Linked DNA regions of Homo sapiens. The protein of the gene in region 1 purifies or fractionates together with the protein of each later gene. This does not show direct contact. Each region holds a gene or a part of one and is shown in the gene's direction. Other genes may lie near its edges.

What was found.
Region 2: the proteins of TAF7L (region 1) and TAF8 purify together in Homo sapiens (affinity purification with mass spectrometry; 2 studies listed by BioGRID and IntAct, with this or other methods). This does not show direct contact.
Region 3: the proteins of TAF7L (region 1) and TAF3 purify together in Homo sapiens (co-immunoprecipitation; 3 studies listed by BioGRID and IntAct, with this or other methods). This does not show direct contact.
Region 4: the proteins of TAF7L (region 1) and UTP6 purify together in Homo sapiens (affinity purification with mass spectrometry; 2 studies listed by BioGRID and IntAct, with this or other methods). This does not show direct contact.

The regions. Positions count from the first base shown.
Region 1 is NC_000023.11:101,281,304-101,288,338, reverse strand, and holds part of TAF7L (transcription initiation factor TFIID subunit 7-like), read left to right. Parts: intron 1-793; coding exon of another isoform or gene 794-795; coding exon 796-861; intron 862-1,685; coding exon 1,686-1,764; intron 1,765-4,755; coding exon 4,756-4,889; intron 4,890-5,885; coding exon 5,886-6,012; intron 6,013-6,563; coding exon 6,564-6,619; intron 6,620-7,035. UniProt on the Homo sapiens protein: Probably functions as a spermatogenesis-specific component of the DNA-binding general transcription factor complex TFIID, a multimeric protein complex that plays a central role in mediating promoter responses to various activators and repressors.
Region 2 is NC_000006.12:42,074,520-42,081,554, forward strand, and holds part of TAF8 (transcription initiation factor TFIID subunit 8), read left to right. Parts: intron 1-2,580; coding exon 2,581-2,720; intron 2,721-3,013; coding exon 3,014-3,026; 3' UTR 3,027-5,216; coding exon of another isoform or gene 5,217-5,256; 3' UTR 5,257-7,035. UniProt on the Homo sapiens protein: The TFIID basal transcription factor complex plays a major role in the initiation of RNA polymerase II (Pol II)-dependent transcription.
Region 3 is NC_000010.11:8,010,505-8,017,131, forward strand, and holds the end of TAF3 (transcription initiation factor TFIID subunit 3), read left to right. Parts: intron 1-3,226; coding exon 3,227-3,333; intron 3,334-4,132; coding exon 4,133-4,247; 3' UTR 4,248-6,127; downstream 6,128-6,627. UniProt on the Homo sapiens protein: The TFIID basal transcription factor complex plays a major role in the initiation of RNA polymerase II (Pol II)-dependent transcription.
Region 4 is NC_000017.11:31,898,694-31,905,993, reverse strand, and holds the start of UTP6 (U3 small nucleolar RNA-associated protein 6 homolog), read left to right. Parts: upstream 1-4,285; 5' UTR 4,286-4,366; coding exon 4,367-4,458; intron 4,459-6,263; coding exon 6,264-6,348; intron 6,349-7,300. UniProt on the Homo sapiens protein: Part of the small subunit (SSU) processome, first precursor of the small eukaryotic ribosomal subunit.

The DNA.
Region 1 (7,035 bases):
AAATCCTGTCTCTACTAAAAAATACAAAAATTAGCCAGGTGTGGTGGTGCATGCCTGTAGTCCCAACTACTTGGGAGACTGAGGCAGGAGAATGGCTTGAACCTGGGAGGCGGAGGTTGCAGTGAGCCGAGATCGCACCACTGCACTCCAGCCTGGGCGACAGAGCGAGACTCTGTCTTGAAAAAAAAAAAAAAGAACTGGACTCCTAACTTTTCCCCAGGGTAGCTCAAAGCTGTTGTTGCTGGCTCTAGAGTCATAAAAAACTGCCTGGTCTCCCATGGACTGCTTAATTTCTACTAATCCATTAATGTAGGTGAAATATTGAAAATCAAGCCCTTGTTTACTTCAAATCATCACAGAACATTTATGCAAGTGGTTTCTAGGCGAATTTCAGCTTTTGGTTTGCATTCTTCCCTACAGAGGTTAGTTTGCTTAGGTAGCCACCAACGTGTTGTTGAATTGTAGTCTTTTACCTGAGAGTCTAAGAATATGATTAAGAAGACGAAATCATGTTTCATAACAGCTCTTATTTCATTTGTTCATCAAATTACATCATGTAATTTGGATTGACTTTGGAAAATCTACACATATTGGAGAGGAGCTAAGGTAACGTCTAGAAATAATTAAGTTATGTCAAATAAGGTATTGTCTAACTGTACACACATCATTCTAGTGAGGATTATGGGCAAGATCTTGTATAATTTAGCCAGTACTACCAGAAGTGGTCAGGAGAGGGAGCAAGAGGAGTTTTTAGTGATGGTTTTCTTTTTGCTTTCATGAACTCAAAATCAAGACATGAGTGAAAGCCAGGATGAAGTTCCTGATGAAGTTGAGAACCAGTTTATATTGCGTCTGCCTCTGGTAAGAACTTGTATCTCAGAACAAATATCTTCATAATTATAGTTTAATTATAATTATAGTTCTACTTGGATTCTGACATTTCTATTTCAGGTAGGCTATAAAAACTCAGAACATTTGTTTCCCAGGAATCATGTTCTGTTAAGCAGTCCTATCATAGCGTGTACTTTTTTGGCAGCATTTTTTCCTCCTGTACAATACCACCTATCATGCAGGTTGATTTCCTGGCAAAACAGCTGTGACAATGATGGACCCATTCACTTACCACCAATACTAACAGCCTGTTCCCTGGACAGCCAAGATACGGCTCCTCTGAAATCCTTTCTGTCACCTCAAAAGGGGCAGTGAGAAGGGCCAGCATTATTCACCACCATGCAAGACTTTTAAAGCTCATCTCAACAAGTATTTGGCTCTCTTCCCCCACACTGATACCTGTATTCAAGCAATTACTTAGTCTAGGCAGCTATATTAAGGATGGGGTTCAGAAACCTATTTCCCTAATTAGGGTTACTTAATATACCAAGCAAACTGCAACTAGGTAAGCCTTTCTTTAGCAACTACAACAGAAGGGTAGCAGTGAGAGGCAGGATTGTAGAGCTAGGAGAAAGCATTAACTGTAGCTACTAAGAGACAATTATGAGTTTAGAGTCAGCTTCATCCTAACTTGACTTATACAGTGCACAGTATCTCATGGTACATGGTCTTGTTAGTAACATTTGGGAGGTGTAAAGTTTTATTTAAGGGAGGGCTTTCTTTGATATATCTATTCTGTTAGCTGCCAAGTAGATGTTTAGTTCTTCTGATTTTTCAATTTACCTCCTTTTTAGGAACATGCTTGTACTGTCAGGAACCTAGCACGTTCTCAAAGTGTCAAGATGAAGGATAAACTAAAAATTGACTTATTGCGTAAGTAGTTAATATCCATTCACTATACATTGAACAATAATTTATTAAGGGATTGCTATGTGCCATACACTGTACTTGGTACTAAGGATGTGAAAAATGATAGAATATGGTCTCTGACTTGATGGACTCATGCTTTAGAGAGGCTTAAGTCCTCTTCTTTTAAGAGGAAAGGAAGTAGGAATATTGCACCTTGAGTTGAGTGATTATCATAGTGTGTTTAAGGAAACTTGGGGGTCAACTGTGGGGTTTTTATACTGCTGGTAGCCTCCCATATATAAACTTTATGATTTCTGAACATCCAAGGGAATGACAAATGGATATGCCATTCTTTGTTTATAAAGGTGACATGTATTTCTTTCTTTCTTTCTTTCTTTCTTTCTTTTTTTTTTTTTTTGAGATGGAGTCTCGCTCTGTCGCCCAGGCTGGAGTGCAGTGGCGCAATCTTGGTTCACTGCAACCTCTACCTCCTGGGTTCAAGTGATTCTTCTGCCTCAGCCTCCCAAGTAGCTGGGATTACAGGCACATGCCACCATGCCCGGCTAAGTTTTGTATTTTTAGTAGAGACGTGGTTTCACCATGTTGGTCAGGCTAGTCTCAAACTCCTGACCTTGTGATCCGCCTGCCTTGGCCTCCCAAAGTGCTGGGATTACAGGCGTGAGCCACCGTGCCTGGCCAGTGACATATATTTTTCTTTTAAATAATATTTGTTATATTGGCAAATTGTACATCCAATAAAGTGGTTAATATCCAAATATATAAGGAACTCAAACAACTCAATAGCAAGAAAACAAATAACCTGATTTTAAAATGGGCAAAGGATCTGAACAGATATTTCTCAAAAGAAGACATACAAGTAGCCAAAAGGTTCATGAAAAAATGCTCAGCATCACTAATCATTAGGGGAATGCAAATTAAAACAACAGCGAGATATCACCTCATACCTGTTAGAATGGCTTTTATTAAAAAAAAAAAAAGAACAATAACAACTGTTAATGAGGATGAGGAGAAAAGGGAAACTTTGTACCCTATTGGTGGTAATGTAAATTAATACAGCCTTTTTTTTTTTTTTTTTTTTTTGAGATGGAGTCTTGCTGTGTCACCCAGGCTGGAGTGCAGTGGCGCGATCTTGGCTCACTGGAACCTCCACCTCCTGGGTTCAAGCAATTCTCCTGCCTCAGCCTTCCGAGTAGCTGGGACTACAGGCATGCGCCACCACACCTGGCTAATTTTTTTGTATTTTTGGTAGAGATGGGGTTTCACCATGTTGACCAGGCTGGTCTTGAACTCCTGACCTCGAGTGATCCACCCACCTCAGCCTCCCAAAGTGCTGGGATTACAGGCGTGAGCTACTGTGCCTGGCCTACAGCCATTATTTTTTTTAAATGGTATGGAGGTTCCTCAGAAAACTAAAAATAGAACAACCATGTGATCCAGCAACCCCACTTCTGTGAATATATTCACAGAAGGAATTGATATCAACATGTTGAAGGCATATCTCTCTGCACTCCCATATTCATTGTAGCATTATTCACAATAGCCAAGATATGGAATCAACCTAAGTGTAAATGTGATACGTATACACAATGCTATACTACTCAGCCTTTTAAAAAGAACAAAATTCTGTCATTTGGGACACCATGGATGAATCTAGAGGCCATTTGCACCAAGAGCATGTGTAAATAAATAAGTAAATAAGTAAATAAATAAATAAATGTTTCCACACAAGTTTATCTGCCTAAAAAACACACAACCAAAAATAAATAAATTTTGCTAGTTTTTTTTTTTAATACAGAGAAGCATATAAAGGAGAAAACAAAAAGTGGCTCATAATCTCACCAGTTAGTTAACACTTACTGACATTTTTTAAAAAAGATAATATAAGTTCATAGTTAGAAAATTCAAATAAAACAGGCTGGGTGTGATGGCTCATGCCTGTAATCCCAGCTCTTTGGGAGGCTGAGGCGGGCGGATCACTTGAGGTCAGGAGTTCCAGACCAGCCTGGCCAACATGGCGAAACCCCGTCTCTACTAAAAATGCAAAAATTAGCCGGGCATGGTGGTGCACACCTGTAATCCTAGCTATTTGGGAGGCTGAGGCATGATAATTGCTTGAACCCAGGGGGCGGAGATTGCAGTGAGCAGAGATTATGCCACTGCACTCCAGCCTGGGTGACAGAGTGAGACTCCTTCTCAAAGAAAAATAAAAAAATCAAATGAAAAAGAAAAGTTCGAAAGGAGAAATAAAACTCTTCTTCCTTATGGTGCCCCAACCTCAATACCACAGATAACTGATACTGTTTCTTGTTACTTCCTTATTGACAAAACTCTTATGCATAATACTAGAATTGAAGCAATCTCTCTATTTTTAGAGTTAATTCACACAAAATGATAAACATTGTTTTGTATCTTTCTTTTTTCACATAATACTAGAAGATTATACCTGAATCCTCTTGTGTCAAAAGACATTTATGTTTGGGACATCTGAGCAGCAATATTCAGAGTTTAGTATATGGCTGTTGTATAGAATTTTATCTTTATGAAGCTAATTAGAGATTTAACTTGAGATTTATTAGCACCATTCTAGGGTCAGTCAACCCTTCCCTCACCCAGCCCTTTGAAAACACACATGTACAATGACACGATTGAATGCTTCTAAAAAAAAAAAAAAAGGAATTGGTTTTAATGAATGGAATTTGCTTTTCAGGATGAGAATGAAACATTTATTACTTCACCTATATTTAGTTCACATCCATTAACAAGAAACTTAGCTACTTTTGCACAAGTGACGTAAACTAGGAAAAAAGAGCTCCATATACTTTCCATTTCTTTTCTTTAGGAAGCTATTAATTGTGTACACAATTCTAGCATTATGAGAGATAGTAGGTTTCTTGGAAAGACTAATCTGTCCCACATAAGTCTTCATTATTCAAACCTTAGGAAGTTTAAGAGTTCACTGGGAAGATATCAACTTTAATCTTTACTTCTCTTCAGCTGATGGGCGCCATGCAGTTGTTGAAGTAGAAGATGTCCCACTAGCTGCTAAGCTGGTTGACTTGCCTTGTGTTATTGAAAGCCTGAGAACGCTTGATAAAAAAACCTTTTATAAAACAGCAGACATTTCTCAGGTATGGACTAGTTTTCTTTACTAGCCTCACATCCTTCAAGGAATTCTTTTCTCTTCCTATTTTTCTTTCTTTCAGTACTCCTTTCCACTTGGTGAATGGCTGCTTGGCATTTCTAATTTCCAGATTGACTGCACAGGAATGAAATGTCATGTTCTCGTTTGGTGTTTGATCCTTAGCTTTCAGTATTGTATTTTGACCAAATAGCCTATAGAGAGTCCCATTTGCCACTTATAGTGACTTTTCATTAATTGAAACATATGAGCTGCTGGGATCTTCTGAACTTTGTATTAAAACAGTATGTTGTTAACTCTGGAGGTTTAAATTGGTTCTTATTCATCATCTCTGCTGTTGATTTCTTATTTCCTCTCTAAATCAAAATGCTGAGATAGGCCAGACACAATGGCTCATGCCTATAATCCCTACACTTTGGGAGGCTGAGGTGGGAGGATCACCTGAGCCCAGGAGTTTGAGACCAACCTGGGCAACATAGTGAGACCTCATCTCTACAAAAACAAGATTAGCCAGGTGTGGTGGCACACACCTGTAGTCCCAGCTATTCTAGAGATTGAGGTGGGAGGATCACTTGAGCCCAGGAGGTCGAGGGTGCAGTGAGCCATGATCACGTACCACTGCACTCCAGCCTGTATGACAGAGCAAGACTTTGTCTAAAAACAAAACAAAAAACCTAAGCTAAGTTCCAAGATCTGTTTCCAATATATTCCCTCTGTAGTGGTAAACACTCTCGTGGAAAAAAAAAAACAAAACAAAGCACCTTCAGAGTTCATATGTAGTGCTGCTGGTGGCTGGTGGTGGGGAGGAGAGGGAGAGAGAGAGACTGCAAAAATGAGAGAATATAAATGTACATTACAAAATACTTGGTTTTCTGGAAATGGCAAGTATCAGTCTCTTCTGTGCATTTCTAGTGGTAAGAATGATTATGATTGCTAACCCAAAATTCGTGGTCATAGTCAACTTCTTTGTCTTTGTTAAATGTAGATGCTTGTGTGCACTGCTGATGGTGATATCCACCTTTCTCCAGAAGAACCAGCTGCCTCTACTGATCCTAATATAGTCAGGAAAAAAGAAAGGGGGAGAGAAGAAAAATGTGTCTGGAAGCATGGCAGTAAGTCACCAGCCCCTTGCTCATTCCTGCTGACTAAAATTTATTTGCTGAATCCTAATTCCTTGTGAAACAGGGACGTCTTACCACACTTAGGTGTTTGGTTCATTAGGTTCTCAGATACTCTTTAAGAGGAGTCACGTCAGCTGGGCGCGGTGGCTCACGCTTGTAATCCCAGCACTTTGGGAGGCCGAGGCGGGTGGATCACCTGAGGTCAGGAGTTCGAGACCAGCTTGGCCAACATGGTGAAACTCTGTCTTTACTAAAAATACAAAAATTAGTTGGGTGTGGTGGCGGGCACCTGTAATCCCAGCTACTCGGGAGGCTGAGGCAGGAGAATCGCTTGAACCTAGGAGGAGGTGGTTGCAGTAAGCTGAGCTCGCACCACTGCACTCCAGCCTGGGCAACAGAGTGGGACTCGATCTCAAAAAAAAAAAAAAAAAAGGAGTGATGTCATGACCCTTTGGTTTATAGCATGATCTTTGTCTTTATCAAATTCAGCTATGTGACTACCATCAGTCATATAACGTTTCACTGTGTTGTATTTATTTTAGTTACGCCACCACTTAAGAATGTCAGAAAGAAAAGGTTCCGGAAAACACAAAAAAAGGTTAGTTACATGCTATTTGTGTGTCTGCCGGGCCGATTAGAAGAGGATCATGGGCCAGAAGAAAAGAGAAAAAGTCAGTTGGGAATTAATTTTTAATTCATTTATATGTTCAATAAACATTTATTGAATGTGAACTAAATGCCAGGCACTGTATGCTAGCAGTAGGGAATATAGCAGTGAATAAAAAGACCTGATCCTTGAGGTTATAGGCTAGTCATTTGGGGTCTGGAAGAATCATACATTTGAAACTTCTGTTAATGCTTTCAGTTTTCTATTGCAAGATCTAGTTTTAAAGTGAACCCATCCAGAACCTGAAAATTGGGAATTGTGGTTATATTCCTAATGTTATTTCAGGCTTGTAGAATCTTGGGCAAACTACAGGAGTATTGTGGCTTGGCTTCTTCTTTTGTTTAAAA
Region 2 (7,035 bases), on another chromosome or scaffold:
GGTCAGTTTGACACTTTACTTTTTTGTTTTTTTGAGACAGAGTCCCACTCTGTCGTCTAGGCTGGAGTGCAGTGGCACAATCTCGGCTCACTGCAACCTCCAACTCCCGGGTTCAAGCGACTGTCTTGCCTCAGCCTCCCAAGTAGCTGGGATTATAGGCGCCTACCACCATGCCCGGCTGATTTTTTTGTATTTTTAGTAGAGGCAGGGTTTCACCATGTTGGCCAGGCTGATCTCGAACTCTTCACCTCAGGTGATCCACCTGCCTTGGCCTCCCAAAGTGCTAGATTACAGGCGTGAGCCACCACGCCTGGCCTACTTTTTTTTTTTTTTTTTTAACTGGCTGACTTCCCCACCCCTAACCATCTCAGTGCTGCCTGTCCCTGAAGGGGACATTTCTATGAGGCCTGCTTGGGAGAAGGAAGCCTGCCGTCCTGCTCTTGTGAGCCACGGTGGGCCGAATGGAGGGAGCCTCTTGACCCTCCAGCAGTGTCTTGAGGCTGGCGTTTTCAGCACCTCTAACAGTGTTACCTCCATGTGTATCTCAGAAAACATTGAAGGCACGGTTGAAGTGAGCTTCCAGTAACTTTGAAGATAGGCTGTCTACTGTAGAGAAATGATAGGATGGACGGAGCGAGGAGATACTACTCATTTGTACCATTAGGAACTTCAGAAAGGTTGGATGCCAGATACCCAAGGGAGGTCTGGTTGTGGGCAGACCTTTTTTCCGGCACCTGGTCTGGCCTGAACTAGGTTGGTCCTGCAGCACTTGCTTTCAAGAGTCTCTGGAAGGCCCCAGTGGCTCTGGGTCACCTTGTGGTCCCACTGGATTGGGTGCTGGAGAGGGAAAACACACAGGCCCTGATACTGGGCCAATGGAACTGTGTCTTTGAAGAGAACAATTGATAGGACAGGGAGAGGGCACGCAGGGGAACCTAGATGTGATCTGGTTTCTTCTGGCTCATTAAACCTGAGACTGGTGTCCATGCCCTAGGCCAGCTGTCCTGTCAGGGGAACCTGCTATTTATTTCATGCCATCCGGTCATGGCATCCTCTGTCTGTTTTGACAGCAGCCTCTCCTGCTTGAGGTCAGTGAGGGCCTCTTTAGCCTCAAGTTGCAGAACAGGAATCTCAATGACTTCTTCCCCGTGGAAGAACTTCTTCCCCTTGGCCCATCACCAGGGGGCGCAGCCCGACCAAACGTGGAAAATAAAGGAGGCTGTGAATAAAGACAGGATAACTGACTGCTCATACTTCCAGAACAGTTTTTAAAATGTCAGCATATTACCTTTTTTTCTGTGTCTATACACAACTGTGACTTTTTAAGAATTTTGATCATACTGATTACATGTGAACTTACAAACTTTTCTGAAAAAACACATTTTTCTCAAAAAATGAACAGTAAAGCGGCCGGGCGCGGTGGCTCACGCCTGTAATCCCAGCACTTTGGGAAGCCAAGGCTGGCAGATCATGAGGTCAGGAGATCGAGACCATCCTGGCTAACATGGTGAAACCCCGTCTCTACTAAAAATAAAAAACTTAGCGGGATGTGGTGGCAGGCACCTGTACTCCCAGCTACTTGGGAGGCTGAGGCAGGAGAATCTCTTGAACCCAGAGGCGGAGCTTGCAGTGAGCTGAGATCACACCACTGCACTCCAGCCTGGGTAACAGAAGAAGACTCCATCTCAAAAAAAAAAAATGAACAGTAAAAAACCCTGCCTCGGAGTTCGAGACTAGCCTGGCCAACTGGTAAAACCCCGTCTCTACTAAAAATACAAAAATTAGCCGGGCGTCATGGCACATGCCTGAAATCCCAGCTACTTGGGAGGCTGAAGCAGGAGAATTGCTTGAACCCCGGAGACGGAGGCTGCAGTGAGCCGAGATCACGCCACTGCACTCCAGCCTGGGTGACACAGGGAGACTCCATCTCAAACAGGCAAACAAACAAACCCTGCCTCATAGGTTGCAGATAGGCATTACCAATGATGTGCATGTGCTGGTACCTGCTGGCTCTGCGTCCCTTAGTGGAACCCTCAAGGCTCAAGAAGTTTCTAGCCTGTGCTGGGATGTGATTGTTGGTACCATGTTGCAAGTACCAGAAATGTGAGGATTTGAGGGAGAAATCTGTTCTGACTTAGTCTATCTAGCTTGGCCAGGAGATGCGCTATGCAGATGATGTGTTCTGATCCTGTATCTCCCAGTCATGCAGGGCATCCAGGATCACTTTTCTTCTTCATCTCCCCACCTGGCCGGGCATCCTCCCTGAGGCATCTGAATTTGATTCCTGTCCCTCCCAGGTGTCTGTTCTTTCTAACCCCTGTCCCTGCCTTCTCCAGAGGTTCAAAACTCTGGACTCTGTTGTGTGCTCTCTTGGGTCAAGGCTGTTAGTCTTGCCTTCCCTTCATAGCCAGCCCCTGCCTGGTCCTCGCTTCATCGGGGCAGAGATAGGAATGTTGGAAAGAAGGTGCTTCCCAGGTTCTAATTTCTCAATTAGAGGATGCTAATGGTCATTCCAATTATAGGCATGATCTCTTTCCTTATGCTGTTGATGTTGTGCTTTATTTTGGCTTTTGCTCAAAGGAGGATTCTGGAGCCGAGAAGGAGAACACCTCTGTCCTGCAGCAGAACCCCTCCTTGTCGGGTAGCCGGAATGGGGAGGAGAACATCATCGATAACCCTTATCTGCGGCCGGTGAAGAAGCCCAAGATCCGCAGGAAGAAGTGAGTTGGAGGCTGGGGTCCAGAGAGCCTTCACTGTCCCACCGAGGTGGTCTTCTCTGCTTCTTGGAAGAGTCTCCTCAGTGGGGCGGAGCCTTGGGGAAAGCCACTCTGGTGAGAGGGAATAGTCTCCCTTTTCCTGTCCTTACTTGGCTCCCGTACATAGCTCTTGTTCCTTAGTGGTTGAGTGTCCTGCAGTCTAGGGACCAACCCTCACAGCACTGGAGCAGTTTTCCCCTAGAAGGAGAGCAGACAGGGCCCACACCAGGAGGCTCCATGGTTCCTCTTCTTTCTAGGTCCCTCTCCTGAGCTGAGAAGGAAACCTGGCTTGTACAGGGGCGCAGATTCCACCCTCCCGGGGAGTTAAAGCCACTCAAGGGAAGAAGAGGGTGACCTCCTCATGGCCAAGCCGAGGCTGCAGGGTGTGATCGGACATGATTTTCATGGCAAACCGTCTTATTAAGATGACCTATTTTCACTGGATGTTTGGGTTGAGGAAGATATGAACAGAATAATGAGAATTTTTTTTTTTATTTTGAGATGGAGTCTTACTCTATCACCCAGGCTGGAATGCAGTGGTGTGATCTCAGCTCACTGCAGTCTCAGCAACCCTGGGTCCAAGTGATTCTCCTGCCTTGGCCTCCCGAGTAGCTGGGACTAGAGGCAAGCGCCACCATGCTGGCTAATTTTTGTATTTTGAGTAGAGATAGGGTTTCGCCATGTTGGCCAGGCTGGTCTTGAACTCCTGACCTCAAGTGATCCACCCGCATTGGCCTCCCAAAGAGTTGCGATTACAGGTGTGAGCCACCACGCCCAGCTAATTTTTGTATTTTTAATAGAGATAAGGTTTCGCCATGTTGGCCAGGCTGGTCTTGAACTCCTGACCTCAAGTGATAACCCGCCTCGGCCTCCCAAAGTGCTGAGATTACAGGCGTGAGCCACCGCACCCCACCAGAGACTTTCTTAATCAATCAGGCTATGTGGTGGGGCATAGCAGCAGCCAGTGACTTCGTTCATTATCACAGGATTTGATTCCTTTGAAACTCAAGAGACCAGGGAAAGTGACAGGAAGGAAAGGGCTCTTTGCTGCTGTGCTTATTACAAGGAAGACTGTTTGTCCAGCGTGTATTTCAGGATATCTGGATCCCTTTTATTGACTCACAATTTGTGGCACCACTTTCTCATCCCAGAACTTCATTCTTATTTCTCTCCTCATCTGGCCTCCCAAGTGCTCCGTTGAGCTGATGAAAAGTTCTTTGTACTCCCTCAACGTGTCGGAAACAGGAGGCCACACAGCACAGCTTTGTTTGGGGTGGGCAGGAGTCAGGAGTCTTGAGCAGATGCATCACTGTGAAGAAGAACGACATGTCGGGGCTGCACCTGTCCTCCCGTCGGCATTTGACGAAAGCTCCCTGAAGCGGGGCAGCACTCTCCTCCTGAGAGATTTACCATTTATTGCCCCTGTGAGGAATGTGTGCTTGGGAACTGCCAAGTCTTACCCCTTCTGGAAGAAGAGGTTTTCTCTGACAAGAGCCTAGAGCGTCGGCTCTATTATGCTGGGACTTGACAGAGGAGCCATGGGGTTTAAACAGTAGGAAAGAGGGGCTACGCGCAGTGGCTCACGCCTGTAATCCCAGCACTTCGGGAGGCGAAGGCAGGTGGATCACTTGAGGTCAGGAGTTCGAGACCAGCCTGGCCAACATAGTGAAACCCCGTCTCTACTAAAAATACAAAAATTAGCCGGGTGTGGTTACTCATGCCTGTAATCCCAGCTACTCGGGAGGCTGAGGCAGGAGAATCACTTGAACCTGGGAGGCGGAGGTTGCAGTGAGCCGAGATCGTGCCACTGCACTCCAGCCTGGGTGACAGAGCGAGACTCCATTTCAAAAAAATAAAAAAAGGATAAAGTAAACAATAGGAAAGGATTTGGTGGGGTGAGGGTGGGGTGTTGAGGGCTGGGCCTCATCTTGTATTCTGAAAGCTGAGAAACGGCTGGTCAGCTGGAAGGCTGGTGGATGGGCAGGAGTGAGCCAAGCTGAGGCGTTCTGCAAGAAGCAGGTCTGAGTCTGTCCAACCAATTTGTATCCTGTGGGGAGAACAACTTCATTCTTAACATACCCTACAAACCAGAAAACAAGTTTTTAAGGAAGATGCTGGGCATGCTGATAGCTTTTCTGGTCTCCTAAGGAAGAGTTTTTAAAACTAAATCCAAGGAAGAAAAATGTAACAACACGTGGAAGTGAACACTGGATGAATAAGCTTGTTTCCCAAATTAGAATCCTAACGTCCATATTTAGCTTCATGTATTCCCCTTTGGCTTCCACAGTTCAACTCCTTTTATTTTGAGACAGGGTCTCGCTGTGTCGCCCCAGCTGGAGTATAGTGGCACTACCTCGGCTCACTGCAACCTCCACTCCCCGGGTTCAAGCAATTCTCAGAGTAGCTGGGATTACAGATGCCCGCCACCACATCTGGCTAATTTTTTTTTTTTTTTTTTAGTAGACACGGGATTTTGCTATGTTGCCCAGGCTGGTCTTGAACTCCTGGCCTCAAGTGATCCACCCGCCTTGGCCTTCCAAAGTGTTGAGATTACAGGCGTGAGCCACGGTGCCCAGCCCATCTCTTAGTCTTCCATTCCCTTGGTGAATTTGGAAACTTGAAAAACTTGGGGACTTGACAGCAGGCTCCATGTTCTTCTGGCCTCACTGTACTGTGTAAGGAAAGAGCTGCTTGTCAGGAACGGAAGAGGGGACGCTAGTAAAAAAAAAAAAATTGGATTCCCCAACTGGACTAAATAGGAGTTTTTCAGGTTTGTAGTAACGTGAAACTCTCCTAGATCGAAGCAGTTAGACTGGCCTATGTGGCCTTCTCAGGGTTTGTGATTCAGTTCTTAGCGATTCTTGGCCTGATAAGTTTATGAACACAGCCCCACATTCAAGCCGTGGCCAATCCCAGCTGTTCTCACTGCTCTTGGGAGGTGTTGTCCCAGTCAGTGTTTCTGCAGCTTCCATTTGTTGTTGTTATCCAGTGTAAGCACCTGTTGAATGCAGATGTGCTGAGTTAGAGGTGGGATTTGGAAAAGGGCTGCTATTTCTGCTGTTGAGATTTCAGAGGCTATACTCTTTTTTTTTCTTTTCTTTTTTTTTTTTTTTTGAGACGGCATCTCACTCTTATCGCCCAGGCTGGAGTGCAATGGCGTGATCTCGGCTCACTGCAACCTCCACCTCCTGGGTTCAAGGGATTCTCCTGCCTCAGCCTCCTGAGTAGCTGGGATTACAGGCACCTACCACAATTCTCGGCTAATTTTTTTTGTATTTTTGGTAGAGACGGGGTTTCACCAGGTTGGCCAGGGTGGTCTCGAACACCTGACCTCAGATGATCCACCCACCTCGGCCTCCCAGTGTGGGTGGGATTACAGGCATGAGCCACCGCGCCTGGCCTCAGAGGCTATACTCTTATAATTTTGTTCTGAGGGGAGACAGGGAAAGGGTTAGACAACTTGAAACATTGACCCTGTATAAAAATGCAAAATTCTCAATGTGTATTTATAAATTTCTATTTTTTATAACTTTATGGGACTTCTTAGAGGCCAAAAGTAGTAAACATGCAGATTAAAAATGTTTATGAAAATCTCAATAAAAATTCATAATAAAAACTTTGTAAATAAATAGAACTGTAAGCTTTGAACTTAATTTGTGTTCAAAAGTTAACAGCAATGTGGACAAATAAGTCAGGCTTAGCCCTTGTGTTGGCCTAAGCACACCTGGGAACTTAGTAAAACTTTTATTTTGGAAATTTTCAAATACAAAATTAGAGAGCAAAATATATGAACCCCTGTATATGCCTCATCAAGCTTCCACACTTGTCAGTAGCTTGTTGATTCTGTTTCATCTGTTTCTCCCACTTTTTGTCCTTTATTTTCTTTCCTCCTGGAGTGTGTGTGTGTGTGTGTGTGCGTGTGTGTGCGTGTGAGACAGAGTTTCGCGCTGGAGTGCAATGGTGCAATCTTGGCCCACTGCAACTTCTGCCTCCCGGGTTCAAATGATTCTACTGCCTCAGCTTCCTGAGTAGCTGGGATTATAGGTATCTACCACCACCACCACGCCTGGCTAATTTTTTCTTTTTTTTTTGGAGACGGAGTCTCGCTCTGTCGCCCAGGCTGGATTGCAGTGGATTGTCAAGATTGCAGTGGTGCAATCTCAGCTCACCGCAAGCTCCGCCACCCAGGTTCACGCCATTCTCCTGCCTCAGCCTCCCAAGTAGCTGGGACTACAGGTGCCTGCTACCACGCCCAGCTAATTTTTTGTATTTTTCAGTA
Region 3 (6,627 bases), on another chromosome or scaffold:
CACTAATTATATTTTATTGGCTATGATCCAGAATATGCCAGGGCTTGCATATTAAATGGAAATGAACTTTGAGACCACAGAACTCCTGAGTATCCAAGCATGATTTCAAATTGTAAAACCAGCTGGACGCAGTGGCTTACGCCTGTAATCCCAGCACTTTGGGAGGCTGAGGCAGATGGATCACTTGAGGTCAGGAGTTCGAGACCAGCCTGGCCAACATGGTGAAACCCCATCTCTACTAAAAATACAAACAAAATTAGCTGGGCATGGTGGCACGTGCCTGTAATCCCAGCTACTCGGGAGGCTCAGGCACAAGAATTGCTTGAACGGGAGGCAGAGCTTGCAGTGAGCCAAGATCGTACCACTGCTCTCTAGCCTGAGGGACAAGAGCGAAACTCCATCTCAAGAAAAAAAAAAATTGTAAATCCCACCATGTCCACTGAGTCCACATTGTTCTGGGACTGTTTTTTAGTTTCTTACTCCCTGAATACACTCTGGCAGTAAAGTGTTTATACAGATTACGTTCTTTGGATACTATAGAATTAAACACACAAACACACAACGAAATATTTAAGGTGTGTGGAGCCATTGCCATTGCTGTGACTACCAACTCTGCAGACTGTGATGTGTTAGCCTACTGGTGGCCCTGACCTTGTAACTAGCTAGGTACTAATATGATTGGAAAGTGGCTGGGTAGGACTCATGGTATTTGTTGTTATAAACTGTACAATATTACATTTCTTTTTTTTATGTTTTCTTTTTTTCTTTTGAGGTAGTCTCACTCTTCTTGTCCATACTGGAATGCAGTGGCACAATACCACTCACTGCAGCCTCGACCTCCTGGGCCCCAGTGATCCCCTCACCTCAGCCTCCCGAGTAGCTGGGACCACAGGCGTCTGCCACCACAACTGGCTGTTTCTTGGCTGTTTTTGTTTGTTTGTTTTTGGTTTTTGTGGAGATGATGTCTCTCTGTGTTGCCCAGGCTGGTCTCAAACTCCTGGGCTCAAGCAGTCCTTCCACCTTGGCCTCCCAAAGTGCTGGGATTACAGGCATGAGCAACCACGCCTGGCCTATTATTAAATTTCCTTAAAGGAGTTTTGGAAGGAACTTCTAAAAGTGTGATCATCAAATTGGTCCATTCGGGGACCAATCATTGTAGGTGTTTAATTAGAGGCAACATCACCCCCAAATGGGTTGATCAGGAAAGATTTTGTACTTAACCTCCTTGACCTTCGTGTCTTCATCTGTAATTAAGGAGTTTGTGTTAAACTTGGTAATCTCTGTGGCATGTTCTAGCTCTAAAAGTTCTGGTTTTCCAGTAGATCTTTGAGCTAACTCACTTCCTGGAGATGAGTCCAACTGGAATAGACAATGTAGATGGAAAGCTTACTGGCTGTGCATGGTGTCTCACGCCTATAATCCCAGCACTTTGGGAGGCCAAGGCAGCTGTATCACATGAGCCCAGGAGTTGAGACTAGTCTGGGCAACATAGTGAGACCCCATCTCTGCAGAAAATACAAAAATTGGCTGGGCAGGGTGACATGTGCCTGTAGTCTCAACTACTCAGGAGGCTGAGCTGGGAAGATCACCTGAGCCTACCGAGGTCAAGGCTACAGTGAGCCATGATCACACCACTGCACTCCAGCCTGGGTGACAGAGTGAAACCCTGTCTTTAAAATAAAAATGAAAATTTAAAAAAAGCTTTCTACCTCATGAAGAGAGACGCTTTGTGGTTAGAGGACAAAATTTATGATTTAGATGACATACAAAGGCTAGAGAGCAAAAAGGCAAATTTTGTCACTGCCTAATGGTGTGATGTTGGAAATGCCACTTAAATTCCCTTAGCTCCGGTTTCCCCATTCATAAGCTACCCAGAGGTTGTTTTACAGGGATTAAATGAAATGAGATGTTTAGAAGAATTTAGTAAGCTATGAGGTATTTGGTATTAGTTGCTGTGGATGCCGTGGTGAAGTTCTTGTGCGGCACACAGAGTCACGGCCTTCTGACTTCAAGCAAGGTCAGCCAGCAGCAGGACTGGCCACACGTGGGAGCTTCAGGGCATAGGATGTTCCACCAGCCTTGGCCTCTAGACAGCAGGTACGGGTGACTGCTGGTTCTCACCCCTTGTTACTTTTTCTCCTGGAATTACGGAGGGTCAGAGATGTAGTTGCCCACAGATTTCTTTAGGAAGTTTTCCTGTCAATGTAGTTTGCCTTTGTAGAGTTGCCTTAAAGGAAGCCCATCACTACAGTGAAACATATATGGACCCCCAATGCACCTGTCACACACAAAGAAAGCCTTTCTAAAAGCATGTCTAGTCAGTGTGGTATTTGAAAGTCTGGGAAGAACTATCCCTTACAAAATAAACCGGATGCAATAATGTGCTCTGTTATTGTAAACACTTTGGAAGTTACCTTTTTCTTATTGCTGGTGTTGAATGCCCATCAGTGAATTAATTCTTCCAGGTTGGCTCTGTTCATGTGAAGTTTGAGGAAGTGGTGAATAGGATGTTCCCTCTTTAGAACTGCTAAGTTAAATAAAGTCAACTCTAGAGTACACAATATTTGTAGCAAAATAATGTTGAACCTTGTAGCTCTGTGGCCTCCCTATCCCCTTATTTCATTTGCCCTTTAGTTGATTGTACTTTACTAAAAATGTCATAAAGGGAATGGAAAGTTACTTAGTAACAACTCTTTTATATCCTTGATCTTATCAGCTCCTTCAGGAGAAGGGCTTGGCTAATAAGTAATAAGGTGGTGCATGCACATTTGGCTGTCTATATTAATTCCATGCCTATGAATGCGATTGAGAAAACCACATATAAAGTGGAGCTCTATAACTTTCAAAAAATCAGTTGTTACCACCCTTATAAAGACCCAAATCATTAAGAATTTACATAGTTATAGTTTTTTTTTTTATGAAAGGGGTTACAGGTCATATTGTTCACAGAGATGATTATAAAATGCTTTTTATGACTTACAAAAGAAAGCTTAGAATATTCGTTAGAAATGCCTTATCATTGAACACTTAGCGTTTTTCTGTTTCTTGATTCTAAAACAGTGATGACGCTGATCATGGCATTAATGAAGTGCTGATCTACTATATTTTTTAGTTTAATATGCCTGTTTATTCGGTTAACAGTATAAAGTAATCATTCTGATCTGGCCTCTTTTTGTTTTTTTTCCCATTCCCTCCATTTTTGCCGCTTCCGCTTTGCAAACATCAGATCCGAGATGAGTGGGGCAATCAGATCTGGATCTGCCCTGGGTGTAACAAGCCTGACGATGGGAGTCCCATGATTGGGTGTGACGACTGCGATGACTGGTACCACTGGTGAGTGCCCAGGGCGCCCTGCCGGCCACACTCATTAGGCAGCATCAGCCGCTCCTGAGATGAAGCATCCACTGAGTAGATTCCTGCCTTTGGACTGACCCAGGGCTGTCCTAGGGACAGTACATGGAGTCAAATCACTGAGCCTGTGAAGTGCAATTAACTGCAAAACCCAAGAGTGCTTAGACTATTGTTATTCACCCTAAATTCTGAATATTCTGCTTAGCTTATCTATCCTTCTTATTAAAAATAATAATACTAAAAGGAGATCCAGGGGCTTCCCTGGCCTTCCTTTCCAGTAATGTTCTGTAGGAGCTGTAGCACTGGCCAGGACCACGAAGAGGCAGCGCCTTTGTAAAGGTGGTACAAACTGCAGGACTAAAGACTGCTTATCTGTTTTTTAGACCTCTTCAGCGGTTCCTAAAAACTGAAAAGCTCAACCAGAATTTATGCAGATAATCTCGTGTTATCTTTAAAATGTCAGATACAAAAAAGATAGCAACCTGTTCAGTTATGATAGACGATATCTGTGAGATAAAGACAAAGCCGTGGCTCGGAAGACTTCTATTCCTGGCTGAGAGGATGAATGAACGGATGAGTCTCTGCAGGGGGCCTGTAAAGGGAGCATCTGTGATCTCATAGTCCGCATGCCCAACAATAGTGCTACACACAAGTTAGTGCTGCTTGACTTTGATTTCGGGTAAACATGTCATAGACTCTAAAAAATTACTTTAAAACATGGAAGGGAGAAGAATAGATGTCTGTATAAAAGTTGCTTATCTGAGCTTGTTTTCACGTGCAGGCCCTGTGTTGGAATCATGACTGCACCCCCAGAAGAGATGCAGTGGTTCTGCCCCAAGTGTGCGAACAAGAAGAAGGACAAAAAGCACAAGAAGAGGAAGCATCGAGCCCACTGACGACTCCCGAGGGGCTGGACCAAGCGGGGTCAGCCCGGGCTTCTTCCCTGGCGCCTCTGGAAGGGAGCTGGTGCAAGTCTGCCGTCACATCCACCCCCAGATGCCTGTGGATAAAGAACCCAGGAGGACTGAGGCTGGAACACACCGCGCACCTGGATTGTTCACTCCCGAGCCGCCTTGGCCTGTGGCTCCGTGGCAGTGCGACAGAAGGAAACTCAAGCAGAGGCGTGGCCTGGGGGCTGCCCCTCCTCCACTTCTCTAATACCAGTGACAAGTATTATTAATAAAGAGCGTACATCTTCCCTTTTGATTTCCTTTATTCTCTCCAGGGCCTTTTCATTGAGGTATTAGATGAGAAGATAATGTACAAACTGCCTCAACTGTAATTTAAGGATGATAGAGTCTGTATACAGTTTTCAGCCCCTTTCCCTCTATAGTAAGATAATCAGAATAACATAAAAGAAAACTCCAGTTGGAGTACCGGTAAATATTTTTGTGATAAGAATATATGAAGCTTCCCTCCTTCCCCCGTTTTTAGTACTAACATGTAAAATGTTCAGGCTTTTGTGAAATACCTTATATTTTTTAAGAAAAAGGTTTCTATCATGTCCTGTTTGCTTTTGTGCAAATTATTTTTGTTTAATGTATTTTATATCTTCGTTGCATTCTAATTTTGCCCTTCTTTAAACTGCTGGAGTCTCTTCTCACTGCTTGTACATTTCATCAACTTGTATAAAAACTCTTCAGACTAAAAGATTGCCCCTAATGTAAATAATAAATATTTATGAAGTAGTTATTTTTTAAATTTTTATCGTGTTTAATTCTGGCTTTCTCTGAAATCCACTGTGATTTCAGCCAGGTCTGTAATGACGCTGGACAGAAACAAGGCTAGAGAAAAAGCCATCGTTCAAAGAAATTTCCCTTGAGCTCAGCCTGCGCAGTGCCCGGAAACATGGTGGGGAAAGGGCCCGAGCAGTTGGAAGGAAAACAAGGCAATTTAAATTTAGAGTTTATGACTTGAAGTTGTTTTGTTTGTTGTCTATTTTGTTTTTGTAAATTTCTTTGACAGACTTTTACTAAAAGGACATGTAGTTTCCATGAAAGTAAAAAAAAAAAACAACAAAAAACCCACATATACTGTAGCATTTTGTCTTTATATTGTTTTATTTCTACAAATCTGTTCATTAATATTGTGCTTTAAGGCTGAAATGAAGTATATTATGAATTTTTTTAAGAAAACTCATCAAATTTCAGGGTATCACAAAACTTTATTATATTATTATACTGCCCACTATTTATTATATGTTATAGATGTCTGAGAGGTAAACCAAATATTTTATTTTTAATGTTAAAAAAACATCAAATTTAACTTTATTAGCATATTTTAGCAACTTTGGGATAAATACGGACTTTTACTTGATTTTGAAATAATCCCAGTGTAGGCCCATGTGCTGGATCTGTTGGATGCTAGAATATGGGCTTTGAACCTAATACAAATATATTACTAGAAAATGTGATTTTTTTAAATGCCAAGTAAATTGATATTAGTGTATGAATTAGTCATATTTTAAAACATTATGTGGTTAGAGAAATGCGGTTTTCTGCCATGAATGTTAAGTTGCAAATCAGTGGAAATGGAGTCGACCTCTTCGGAGCACAGGGTGTCATTGCCCTCGTTGTTCAAGAGGCCAGAATTTTTCTATCCCCGCTAAGAAACAAAGCATCTATGTTGAGATATGTGTTTTTTTGTTTGATTAATTTGAGATCATTCTAAATACTTTATACAATATTTTCACATGCACAAAAATGCGCGTTAGTGGTTTTTGGAGAGGGGTGAGGGGTGGGGGAAGTGCAAAATAAAGATTATTGGCTATTTCATAGTTTGCTTTTCCATTTTCTTTATTTAGGATTTAGTTCCTTGAGGCGTGGTCCATGATCTGAAGTTGCCACGTTTAAGTGAGCAGGTCACGCTACTGAAATCAGAATGGAGGTGCCTATATATAACTTTCCCCCCAATCTTACTGTCTGAGAGACTTCAGCCCATGCTACATTTAAGGAATTTCAATCAGTTTGTTGTCCCTTGCTATTTCATGGTTGCTTTCCTAAATCCAGTTCATGATTTTATAAATGGTCTTTGCAATAATAAAACCAAAGAATCATTTTCAGGGGGCTGGAGAGCTCGAGGGATTAGTAATGGAATACAGAGCCTTTCACCTCTAGGTCAGTGAGTCGGATCCAGTCCAGGTCACTAGAGACCAAAAGTTGTCACCATCTTATGACTGTTCAGTGGCCTGTGTGAAATGAACTGGTGGTCTCAGTCTCTACTGGGTGGCTGGCTGTGACACCAACCAAAGGAAGTTCAAGAAACTGCAAAGAGAAA
Region 4 (7,300 bases), on another chromosome or scaffold:
GCGAAACTTCGGCTCACAAAAAAAAAAACAAAAAAACATAAAGGACTTAGAACAGTGCACATAGTAGCTGGGCACACAATAAGCCCTACATAATGACAGCTTTTTTTTTTTTTTTTGAGACAGAGTCATGGGGTTTCACCATGCTGGCCATGCTGGTCTTGAACTTCTGACATTGTGATCTGCCAACCTTGGCCTCCCAAAGTGCTGGGATTACAGGCGTGAGCCACTGCGCCGGGCCAATGACAGCTATTATTATGAGATGCAGAAGTGAAAAGAAGGCTTTGTCATTTCTGTCATAATAATTCTTTTTTTTTTTGAGACAGATTCTCATTCTGTTGCCCAGGCTGGAGTGTAGTGGCACGATCTCGACTCACTGCAGTCTCTGCCTCCCGGGTTCAAGCGATTCTTGTGCTTTAGCCTCCCAAGTATTTTTTTTTTTTTTTGAGACGGAGTCTCGCTCTGTCTCCCAGGCTGGAGTGTAGTGGTGTGATCATGGCTCACTACAACTTCCGCCACCCAGGTTCTAGCAATTTTCCTGCCTCAGCCTCCAGAGTAGCTGGGATTCCCGCCACCATGTCTAGCTAATTTTTGTATTTTTAGTGGGGGGGTATTTCACCATGTTGGCCATGCTGGTTGTGAACTCCTGACCTCAGGTGATCCACCTGCCTTGGCCTCCAAAACATCATAATAATTCTTTCTTTTTTGGGACAGAGTGTCGGTCTGTCACCCAGGCTGGAGTGCAGTGGCGTGATCTTGGCTCACTGCAACCTCCATCTCCCGGGTTCAAGCGATTCTCCTGCCTCAGCCTCCCGAGTAGCTGGGACTACAGGCACGCACCACCATGCCCGGCTAATTTTTGTATTTTTGGTAGAGACGGAGGTTTCACCATGTTGGCCAGGCTGGTCTCGAACTCCTGACCTTGTGATCCACCCACCTCGGCCTCCCAAAGTGCTGGGATTACAGATGTGAGCCACTGCGCCTGGCCCATCATAATAATTCTTGAAGGTAAATATAAAAGCTAGGCAGGGCGGGGTGGCTCACATCCCAGCACTTTGGGAGGTGGAGGCGGGTGGATCGATCACAAGGTCAGGAGTTCCAGACCAGCCTGGCCAACATGGTGAAACCCCGTCTCTACCAAAAATACAAAAATTAGCTGGGCGTGGTGGCGTGCGCCTGTAGTCCCAGCTACTCAGGTGGCTGAGGCAGGAGAATCGTTTAAACGGGAAGGCGGGGGTTGCAGTGAGCCGAGATCATGCCACTGCCCTCCAGCCTGGGCAACAAACTGACACTCCGTCTCAACAACAACAACAACAACAACAACAAGAATATATACATAAACGCTAAATTTTGGCCAGGCGTGGTGGCTCATGCCTGTAATCCCAGCACTTTGGGAGGCCGAGGTGGGCGGATCACCTGAGGTTAGGAGTTCGAGACCAGCTTAGCCAACATAGTGAAACTCCGTCTCTACTAAAAAGACAATAATTAGCTGGTCGTGGTGGTGGGCGCCTGTAATCCCAGCTACTCGGGAGGCTGAGGCAGGAGAATCACTAGAATCTGGGAGGCTGAGGTTGCAGTGAGCCAAGATCACGCCACTACACTCCAGCCTGGGCAACAAGAGCAAAACTCCATCTCAAAAAAAAAAAAGCTAAATTTCAAAATAAGGGAGGATCGCTGGGCGTGCTGGCTTATGCCTGTAATCCCAGAATTTTGAGAAGGGGAAACAAGATGATCACTTGAGGCCAGGAGTTCAAGACCATGGTGACAATACAGTGAGACCCTGTCTCTATTTACAAAAACAAAAACACCATCCTCGGCAACATAGTGAGACCCCTGTCTCTACAAAAAAGAAAAAAGGAAAATTAGCCAGGTGCGGTGGGGCACACATGTAGTCCCAGCTACTTGGGAGGCGGGGGTGGGAGCATTGCTGGAGCTCAGGAGGTTGAGGCTGCAGTGAGCTGTGGTCACACCACTGCACTCCAGCCTGGGTAATATAGTAAGACCCTGTCTCAAAACAAAACAAAAACGTAATTAGGCCGGGCATGGTGGCTCACGCCTGTCATCCCAGCTACTCGGGGGATCGCTTGAACCCAGGAGGTGGAGGTTGCAGTGAGCCGAGAGCGCACCACTGCACTCCCCATTAGGCAACAGAGAGAGGCCACCAGGCCCAGCTAATTTTTTTGTATTTTTAGTGGAGACGGGGTTTCTCCATGTTGGCCACGCTGGTCTTGAATTCCTGACCTCAGGTTATCCGTGGCCTCGGCCTCCCAAAGTGCTGTGATGACAGGTGTGAGCCACAGTGCCTGGCCAGCGAGGCTCGGTCTTAAAAAGAACAACAAAACAAAACAAAACAATATAAAGGAGGAGCGTATTTATAGTTAGTTTGATTTAAAAATTGGGCGGGCGCGTTGGCTCACGCCTGGAGTCCCAGCACTTTGGGATGCTGAGGCGGGTGGATCATGAGGTCAGGAGATTGAGACCATCCTGGCCAACATGATGAAAACCTGTATGTACGAAAAACACAAAAATTAATTGGGTGTGGTGGCACGTGCCTGTAGTCCCAGCTACTCGGGCGGCTGAGGCAGGAGAATCCTTTGAACCAGGGGAGTCGAGGTTGTGGTGAGCCGAGATCGCGCCACTGCACTCCAGCCTGGTGACAGAGCGAGACTCTGTCTCTAAATAAATAAATAAAATAAAATAAAATAAAAATCATGGTTAATTTATGAAGGTCTCTATCAAATTTACTTTGAAATGATTACAGTCTGTCATAACTTGCTGACTTCCTTGTACCTAAAGAAATTTAGCAAGTACCTTTTCTTAGTGTCATGCATTTATTAACTGAGTACTTATTATATGGTAGGCACTGCTATAAGCTGTAGAGTATCTAGCCAGTCAAAAAGGAAAAAATTCCCTGCCCATATGGAGTTTACTATCTAGTGTCATCTCCACTCTTACTGTTAACACAGCCCCAGAGATTTTACTTTTACAAATAAATTCTATCTTTGTCTTACATTCGTGATTTCCTTCCACTTCTGACATGTCTTACAGCTGAAGGATTCAAGAAATGGTGTAGCACAAGCCAACCCTCGTCTCAGTTCTGAGATGAGTGGGTAAAATGTGAAAGGAAAGAAAGAAATGCAAGGCACAGAGGTGGAACATGGTTTTGCTGAGCCCATTCTCCTTTCATAAATCACACACAGGATCCAGGTGCTAATGTGAATGTTGAAATAAGCAGATTTAGCAAGAACTGCTGCTTTGGCTTTTTTATATCCAGAACTAAAAAAGAACTGAACCATGTAGTTATCATTTGAGGTTTACTAACTATACCAGCAATATTGCCTCCAAGCTGTGTTGCCTGGTGTTTCTCTTAGAAATGCTAAGTTGCTTGGGCAATGGTTTAAGGAGGGTGTCTATACCTTAGTGATTTATTTTGGTAATTCTCAAACTTTTCAATACAAAAATCTCCTTTTCTAAAAAGAATTTATAGTGTCTGATATTCACCTAGGGACATATATTTTGAAAGCTATTGCTTACAAAGACAGGATATTGATTTAAATAATAAACAATTCTATTTTATTTATTTATTTATTTAGAGACGGAGTTTCACTCTTGTTGCCCAAGCTGGAGTGCAATGGCGCGATCTCGGCCTCCCAGGTTCAAGCGATTCTCCTGCCTCAGCCTCCCGAGTAGCTGGGATTACAGGCGCGTGCCAGCACGCCCAGTTAATTTTTTTGCATTTTTAGTAGAAACGGGGTTTCATCATGTTAGCCAGGATGGTCTCGAACTCCTGACTTCAGGTGATCTGCCCGCCTCGGCCTCCTAAACTGCTGGGATTACAGGCATGAGCCACCGCGACCGGCTTTCAAAAATGTTTAATTGTACAATATCCTCCTCCTTTGCTTTTTTTTTTGTTGTTGTTCTTGGTGTTGGGAAGTCAGGACGTGGGATGGGAGACAATATTCTGAAGAAAATGCATCTCGTGTCCCTTTCAGGCTTGAGCAGCCCACCTCTCTACACCTGGAGGCGCTTTTCCTGATGGCTGTCCAAGTCTAGCGGCGCGCGCACTTAACCCCTCCCTCCCGTCTAGCCCCGCCCCTCAACTCCTGTCCGCTAGAGTCGTCCTGCCCAAGACCAGGGCGGGTTCTCGCTGCAATCCCACAATCGGCCACAGGGAGGGGACGGTGGCTGTAGAAGCCGAAGGGCCTTCCCCTAAGTAGGAGGTGGCGGAAGCGGAAAAGGCGGGACCTAGGGAGCACGTTACGTCCGGACGCGTCGGTGGTAGGGCTGGGTCTCCGAACCTGAAACCGGGAGCTTCCTGCTCGTGTTCGCTGTTGAGAAGCTACCCGCGGGGTTGTAGACCTCGGACCTCATGGCAGAGATAATTCAGGAACGCATAGAAGATCGGCTCCCGGAATTGGAACAGCTGGAGCGCATTGGACTGTTCAGTCATGCGGAGATTAAGTGAGAGAGGGTTGGGGAGAGGGAAGAGCTGAGGCGGCCTGAGGGGAGGTTGGGAGTGTGTGGCAGGGGCTAGATGTGGGGACGCTCGACCTGTGTTTACTTTTCCTAACGTGGTGGAAGCCCATTTCTCGTTTTCGGTGATGTCCAGAATTAATTTTTCATTCGTTGCAAGGTAATCCGTCCGTCTACTTACCCATCAGACGTTTTGACAGCCCTTCATGGAGCCGGGTCTTAGGGCTGTAAAGGTGATAAACCCAGGATTCCTGCTCATTAGGAGCTAATTGGGCAGAGTGTGGTGGGGGAGACAGACAAATTAAATATTTTGATAACAGTGTACTGTAAGTTGATTGTAGTACCTTGTACTGCTGTAGGGATGGGAACAGAGTGCTGTGAGAGCCCAGGGGGAGTGGATAAATTCCTAACTAGACTTGAAGGTGGGGACCATTGAAATCAGTTTCATATGCTACTCCAGAGCCTAACTACAGCGCCTGGCACATGGTAGACATTCAGTAGCGTGTTAAAATTATGTTTAATAGTTTTTAATGGTTTCTGTGACTGTTGCTTTGTTTTGCAACGTCTGAATGTAGTAATGTGACTCAGAGCTTCAAAGTAAGCATTCGTTAATGAAACACAAAACAAAGCAGTGTGGACGCTTAGAAAGTGCTCAGTTAAGGTTAATGTTACCATTACTAAAGACACCTGTCTTGCACATCTTGCATTAAATTCTCCTAATATATATTTGTCATATGTTCATTCCTTAGCTAAGGACTCTGAATCTTCTCCCGTAAGTCCTTCGTAGTAATAAGTCTTTTAAGGCAGACGCAATTTAGATTTTTAAAAAAATTTACATGTTGAGAACTCAGAAATAAGAGGAATTTCGGAAAGAAATTTATTATTAAAATTTAAGTGACCTGAACTTGGAGTAAAAGAAGTCTTTATTAATACCAGCCAGGCGCTGTGGCTCACGCCTGTAATCCCAGCACTTTGGGAGGCCGAGGTGGGTGGATCACGAGGTCAGGAGTTCGAGACCAGCCTGGCCAATATGGTGAAACCCCGTCTCTACTAAAAATACAAAAATTAGCTGAGCGTGGTGGTGAGCGCCTGTAGTCCCAGCTACTCGGGAGTCTGAGGCAGGAGAATCGCTTGAACTCGGGAGGCCGAGGTTGTAGTGAGCCAAGATCATGCCACTGCACTCCAGCCTGGGCGACAGAGCGAGAAAAAAACAAACAAAAAAAACACCATACATAAATGGTATAAAGTTCTTAATTGTATTTGCTTTGCTGGTGGGAATGTCATTGGTTTTGGGAGTTGATTAAGATGATTTTCCTGAAAGTTTAAAAATGAACCCTTAAGAACACAAAAGTAATTGTGTAAGAGAATACTTTTTTTTTTTGAGATGGAGTCTTGCTCTGTCGCCAGGCCAGAGGGCAGTGGCGCGATCTCGGCTTACTGCAACCTCCGCCTTCCAGGTTCAAGCAATTTTCCTGCCTCAGTCTCCCGAGTAGCTGGGACTACAGGCACGCACCACCACGCCCAGCTAATTTTTGTATTTTTAGTAGAGATGCAGTTTTACCATGTTGACCAGGGTGGTCTCAGTCTCTTGACCTCTTGATCTACCCGCCTCAGCCTCCCAAAGTGCTGGGATTCCAGGCATGAGCCACTGTGTCCGGCCGATAATACTTTCTTATGAAAGATAACTCTAGGAATTTCGTATTTTGAAAAACATGTTTTAAATATATTCAAAATAAACTTAAACGTTTAATTTTTGCAGTTTTCAAGTGAAGTTTAAATGGCTTTCTCCTCAGGGCTATCATTAAGAAGGCTTCCGATCTAGAGTACAAAATCCAGAGAAGAACCCTTTTCAAGGAAGACTTTATCAATTATGTTCAAGTAAGTGTGTAATTAATAATTTCTTTCTTTTTTTCTTTTTTGTTTTTTGGTGAGATGGCATCTCACTCTGTCACCCAGGTTGGAGTGCAGTGGTGTGAATGGTGTGATCTCTGCTCACTGCAACCTCTGCCCTCCAGGCTCAAGCGATTCTCCTACCTCAGCCTCCTGGGTAGCTGGGACCATAGATGCATGCCACCATGCCTGGCTAATTTTTTGGTAGAGACTGGGTTTTGCCACATTGCCCAGGCTGATCTCAAGGGATCCACCCACCTTGGCCTCTCAAAGTGCTGGGCTTACAGGTGTGAACCACAGTGCCCGGCCAATAATTAATAATTTCATTACTTTTTTTTGAGGCAGGGGCTCGCCTTTCACCCAGGCTGAAGTGCAGTGGTGCCATCATGGCTCAGTGTAGCTTCCACCTCCTGAGCTGAAGCCATCCTCCCACCTCAGCCTCTGGAGTAGCTGGGACTACAGGTGTGTGCCAGTATGGCTGGCTAGCTTTTGTGTTTTTTGTAGAGACAGGGTTTCGGCATGTTGCCCACGCCCAAAATGCTGGGATTACAAGTGTTTGTGAGCCACCGGGCCCAGCCTTACTTTTTTTATTTTTGTTTTTGAGACAAGAGTCTTGCTCTGTCACCCAGGCTGGAGTGCAGTGGCGCGATCTTGGCTCACTGCAACCACTGCCTTCCGGGTTCTAGTGATTCTCAAGTCTCATCCTCCTCAGTAACTGGGATTACAGGCGTATGGCACCGCACCCAGCTACTTTTAGTAGAGACTGGGTTTTGCCATGTTGGCTAGGCTGGTCTCGAACTCCTGGCCTCAAGCAATCCACCAGCATCGGCCTCCCAAAGCGAGTGCTATGATTACAGGCATGAGGCATCATGCTCGGTCCTAGCCTTACTTTTTAATCCCTTCACAAATTGATTGATTGGTTGATTAATTGAAATAGAGT